Regions from separate parts of the Homo sapiens genome. Here region 2 is linked to region 1. A link means that fine-mapping ties the variant in region 1 to the expression of a gene that starts in the linked region. Tissue or cell type: monocytes after R848. Region 1 holds a variant in brackets; the other region holds the start of a gene. All regions are shown on one strand. Distances are from middle to middle.

Region 1 (2,500 bases):
GAGCCACTGCGCCTAGCCAACAATGTCTCCATTCTATAAAATATTTAGCCTCATTTTATATATTTGGGGAAACTGGGAGTTAAGTGACTCCCCAAGGCCTCAGAGCTGGCAAGTAGCAGGTGTGGGCTTTGAACCGAGGTCTGAGTTCTACCTGATCCTGCCCCTCCCCTTGCCCCAACCTGCCCCTGCCTGCTTTTGGCCTTGTGGCTGTACATTTGGCTCTGTAGCGATTGCTCAAGGAGCGGGGTGCGCTGAGACACGAGCTCTCAGAAGCTTCCCAGATAAGTGGAAGGCAGTGACACATTGATGGTACGGAGTGGATGATCAGGGCACTGAGAATCATCCGATGGAGGACAGAGGTGTTGACCACTGCCAACCCCACCCCTCTTTCAGGAGAGTATCGCTCCCCTGTTTGAGATCCGCATGGAGCTGGACGAGGATGGGCTGACCTTCAACCCGACCCTGGAGGTGGGCTCAGATCGCGGCTTCCTGGCACTGATCGAGGGCCTGGTCAACGACATCTACAACGTAGCCAGGCTCATCCCTCGGCTGGCCAAGGACAGGATGAACTACAAGGTCAGTCCTGGCCTCTTCTGGCCGTACACAGGGTCATCCATTGCTTTCCCCATTTGGTGTTGCCGCCCTAACTCGGCAAGGCTTCGCCGTTTACCTTTTCTTTTTTTCTTTTTTTTTTTTTGAGACGGAATCTCACTCTGTCGCCCAGGCTGGAGTGCAGTGGCGCGATCTTGGCTCACTGCAACCTCCGCCTCCTGGGTTCAAGCCATTCTCCTGCCTCAGCGTCCCGAGTAGCTGGGATTACAGGCACCCGCCACCACACCCGGCTAATTTTTTTATTTTTTTTTAGTAGAGACTGGGTTTAACCGTGTTAGCCAGGATGGTCTGGATCTCCTGAACTCATGATCCACCCGCCTCGGCCTCCCAAAGTGCTGGGATTATAGGCGTGAGCCACCGCGCCCGGCCCTGCTTACCTTTTAAATGACATCGTGTGACCTCTAGGATGACATGGCCACTTCTCTCCCCACTCCCACATCTGTCGTCCTTCCCAAAGCAGCTTCTTCTCAGTCAACCTGCCTGGGTTTCATTCCCTCATCATCCTTCCAACCCCCCGACACGATGCCAAGAGGGTAACCTTTCCCAACTTCCTGACTGTTCACTCAGTCCTGTAATTTTTTTGAGACAAGGTCTCACTCTGTCACCCAGGCTGGAGTGCAGTGGTTCAATCTCGGCTGACTGCAGCCTCTGCCTCCCGGGCCCAATTGATCCTCCCGCCTCAGTCTCCCAAGTAGCTGGGATTACGAGCATGCATCACCAAGCCCAGCTTGGTGATGTATTTTTTTGTAGAGATGGGGTTTTGCCATGTTGTTGCCCAG[A/G]GTGGTCTTAAACTTCTTAATTTTTTTATTTTTTGAGACAGAGTCTTGCTCTGTTGCCCAGGCTGGAGTGCAGTAGCATAATCTCAGCTGACTGCAACCTCCGCCTCCTGGGTTCAAGCGATTCTCCTGCCTCAGCCTCCTGAGTAGCTGGGACTACAGGTGCATGCCACCATGCCTGGCTAATTTTTCTTTTTTTTTATATATTTTTAGTAGAGACGGGGTTTCACCATGTTGGCCAGGATGGTCTCAATCTCCCGACCTTGTGATCCACCCGCCTTGGCCTCCCAAAGTGCTGGGATTACAGGTGTGAGCCACCGTGCCCGGCCTCAGTCCTGTAATGTAAACACTGATTCTCCCAGTACTCAGGCAATTTGACAAATGTGCCTCCCACTGCCTTCTGAAATCATCTCGTCTAAACGCATCAAACAAGACACACGGAGAGCCTGGCCAGGCTCTGGGGTAGGAAGGACAACAAAAGTCATGGGAAATTCAGCTCCCCGCTTAAGGGAGGTTTGAGGTGGTGTGTTTGTCAAAGCACCTATTTGTATAGCAATAAAAAAAAATCTGAAAAGACTTAAGTGACCTAAATGTTTGTGGAAGAGGGGAGTGGCTTGACCAATTCTGGCCCAAACCCAGATTCTGTGAATTGTCACAATGAGCCAAGGATGGAAAGGTGTTGTGACAGGTTATTAGACATTTATCAAGTTACAGAACAATGTTTAGAATATGGTTTCATTTGCTTAAACAAGCAAAAATCTGGGTGAGTGCTTACCAGGAAGGGAGGAAGGAGGGGAGGGGAGAGGGATGTGGCTGCAGGCGTTTCCTCTCATGCATTTCTGCGTTGTTTGAATTGTAAAATAATGGACACGTATGATTTGTCATAACATATATTTACAGCGAGATGAGCTGTCCTGTCCAGGAGGGAGGGATGTGCGTGTGCTCGTGTGTGTACGCGTGTGCTTGGATGCATATGTGCCCGTGTGCGTATTTGCATGTGTGGTGGGGAGGCATGCTTGTACAGAGGTGACATGAGGACACGAGGGAACAGCTAATGACCTGAGAAGGTCAAGGACAGCTCCTGAGAGGAGTGGGCGTGTGAGCGGATTCTG
Region 2 (3,024 bases), 41 kb before region 1:
TTGCCTCATCTGAGGTCAGATCAACTCCTGTGTGCTCTTCTAAGAGTTTTATAGTTTTAGCTCTTACATTTGGCTCTTGCATTCTGTTAATCTATGCTGAGTTAATTCGTGTAGATGGCGTGAGGTAAGGGCCCAGCTTCGTTTTTCCGCATGTGGGTATTCAGTTATTCCAATACCATTTGTTGAAAAGGTGATTCTTTTCCCATTGAGTTGTCTTGGCACCTTTGCTAACTCAATCGTCCATAAATGGATGCATTTATTTCTGGAACCTCAATTCTATTCTAGTGATCTCTGTCTATTGTTATGCTGGTAGCACTGTCTTGATAACTGTAGCTTTGTAGTGAGTTTTGAAATCAGGAAGTGTGTGTCTTCAGACTTTGTTCTTTTTCAAAGTTGTTTGGATGGTTTTTGTTCCCTCATACTTCCCTATAAAATCTAGGGTCATTTCTACAAAAAAGGCAGCTGAGAGTTTGATAAGGATTGTGTTGAATCTGCAGATCAACTTGAGGAGAACTGTCGTCATCTTAACAATCTTCTTTTTTTTTTTTTTTTGAGACGGAGTCTCACTCTGTCTCCCAGGCTGGAGGGCAATGGCGGGATCTCGGCTCACTGCAAGCTCCGCCTCCCAGGTACATGCCATTCTCCTGCCTCAGCCTCCTGAGTAGCTGGAACTACAGGCACCCACCACCACGCCCGGCTAATTTTTTTGTATTTTTAGTAGAGATGGGGTTTCACCGTGTTAGCCAGGATGGTCTCGATCTCCTGACCTCGTGATCCACCCGCCTTGGCCTCCCAAAGTGCTGGGATTACAGGCGTGAGCCATCACGCCTGGCCCGTCTTAACAATCTTCTAACCCATGAACACAGCATGTCCTTCCATTGATTTAGGTTGTCTTTATTTCCATGATGTTTTGCAGTTTTCAGTGTACAAGTCTTAACACTTCTTTTTAAAGTTTATTCCTAAGTATTTTGTTGTTTTTGACGCTATTGTAAACGAAATTATTTTGATGCTGTTGTAAATGGGAGTTGTTTTCTAAATTTCATGATCAGATTGTTCATTATGGGGACAATTGTTTTCTAAATTTCATCATCAGATTGTTCATAATATAATTACAGAGAAATATAATTAATTTTCAAATATCTTGTATACTGCAAACTTGCTGAATTCCTCTATTAGCTCTACAATTTTATGGATTTCTTGGGATTTTCTACATACAAGATCACCTTATTGTAAACAGAGATAATGTCTTCCTTTCCACTTTGGGAGGATTGCTTGAGGCCAGGAGTTTGAGACCAGCCTGGGCAACAGAGTGAGACCTCATCTCTACAAAAAGTACAAAAATTAGCCAGGTGTGGTGATGTGCGTCTGTTGTCCTAACTTCTCAGGAGGCTGAGGGGGGGGGATCACGTAAGCCCAGGAGTTTGAGGCTGCAGTGAGTTATGATTGTACCACTGCACTCCAGCCTGGGTAACAGAGCGCGACCCTGTCCCCCCTCCAACCTCCCCTCAAAATGATCATCTAAGAGCCTTTCCACTGTGGGGTGACGGTTGGTTCCTCATTTGCTGCGCTATCATTGGTTACTTGGGTCCCAAGGGGAAGGTTCTAGAAGCCCCAGGTACCGTGAGGAGACTCCCAGAAGTTATGTGGCAGTTGGAGCCCCTCGAGGGAAGGGAGCCATTTTCTTTCCTGGTTTGGGAAAGAGTTGCTCATCAGTTTGCGGGAGAAGCTGTTTGCCTTCAGCTGGTGAGCGGCCTTCAACCATGCTGGGGGAGTCGGAGGCCAAGGTGGAGGGAGCAGGGAGGCCTTCAGAGGATGGAGGTGGGACCTAGGCCCTGGCAGACAGCAGACCCTCCACTTACCCCAGAAGTGGCTCTGCTCGCCACCGGGAGCTGTTCATGGCTCTGGGACCCCGAGGCTGGCTGCCACGTACCAGCCTGACCCCTTCCAGGGCTCCAGACTCTTCCCTGCTCCTGGGAAGGCCTTGCCTCAGCCCCCTGGCTTCTCCTGGAAGCCCCTAGCCCCAGCTTCCTCCTGTGGAGTCCTGAAGGCCTGGGGCATGGGCCACCTCCCAGAGAAGCCGTCTCTGCCCCTCCGGAAGCATGGCCTGGGACAACCCTATTGTTAACTGGGACCTCCTGGCCTTCAGCCCAGGAAACGGCTGGGTGGGAGCCTGAGATGAGACCTCCCGATCGTGCAAGAAACTTGCGGGGTGTAGGGGCCCCTCAGCCCACACATGTTATGGCTTGGGAGGCAGCCCACCCCATGCCGTTCTTGGAAGAAAAGATGACTTTGTGAAAGCCCAAATCCACAAAATCAGTAAACCAGAGGATGTTTCCCTCCAGTCCAGTCGCCTGACCAGCTTGGCGAGACTTCCAATCAGGAACCTTCCAGGACTCGGGCTCCCCTGAGTTCCTGATCCCCCTAGGAAATGACGACGTGACGCGTCCCCGGGTCTCGGAGATCCTGGGTGGAGATTAATTCAGCAGCATGCTGAAAGCCCTGTGGGAACCTGGTGAACGAGTCATCTCCATAAATGCCACGCGGTGCTCCTCCTACTTGCCTGGTGGTGTCCCCTTTTTCTTTCACAGATGTGCCTGAATCGGGTGGCTTTGCTCGTGGACCGCCATGTTTCTGCCATTTGCTGGCCAAATATTCCCCAAGTCCTCTCTCAGAGATGTTTGGAGCCTTGAATAAATCTCAGACCATTTGAATAGCATCCAAATGCTATCCACTACTGCTTCCCATCATATAGTTGTTTTGCCGATATATAGTGGCCAGGGTGAAATAAACCTGTTCCGTGGTATTACGTGTCTTTTGGGGAACTGTAGGCTGTTACAAACTTAAAAGCAATAGCTTGGGTCAAACCAAAAGGCAGAATTTGTGAGTGCTTCCAACGTCATCTGTCCACCCTGATGCTTTTCAGCAGCTGCCAGGTCTGGAGCAGGCCAGCCCCAGCCCACGGACCCCCAGAGCAGCTGAATACCCCAGGGTTCCCCTTGAAATTCAGGAGCTGCATACCTCCCA

What was found. PIP is the estimated chance that this variant, and not a neighbour inherited with it, causes the effect.
Region 2: DNAH17 starts here. The variant in region 1 is fine-mapped to the expression of DNAH17 in monocytes after R848 (Quach 2016, PIP 0.95).

Annotation. Positions count from the first base shown.
Region 1 is chr17:78,535,375-78,537,874 of GRCh38, reverse strand. It overlaps DNAH17 (dynein axonemal heavy chain 17), which reads left to right. Exons shown (of 81, transcript NM_173628.4): 19 at 394-576. Among named protein-coding and RNA genes, the nearest start is that of DNAH17, 41 kb to the left of the region's middle. The variant A/G (reference allele first, on the strand shown) is at 1,392.
Region 2 is chr17:78,576,014-78,579,037 of GRCh38, reverse strand. It overlaps DNAH17 (dynein axonemal heavy chain 17), which reads left to right and starts at 1,642. Exons shown (of 81, transcript NM_173628.4): 1 at 1,642-1,743.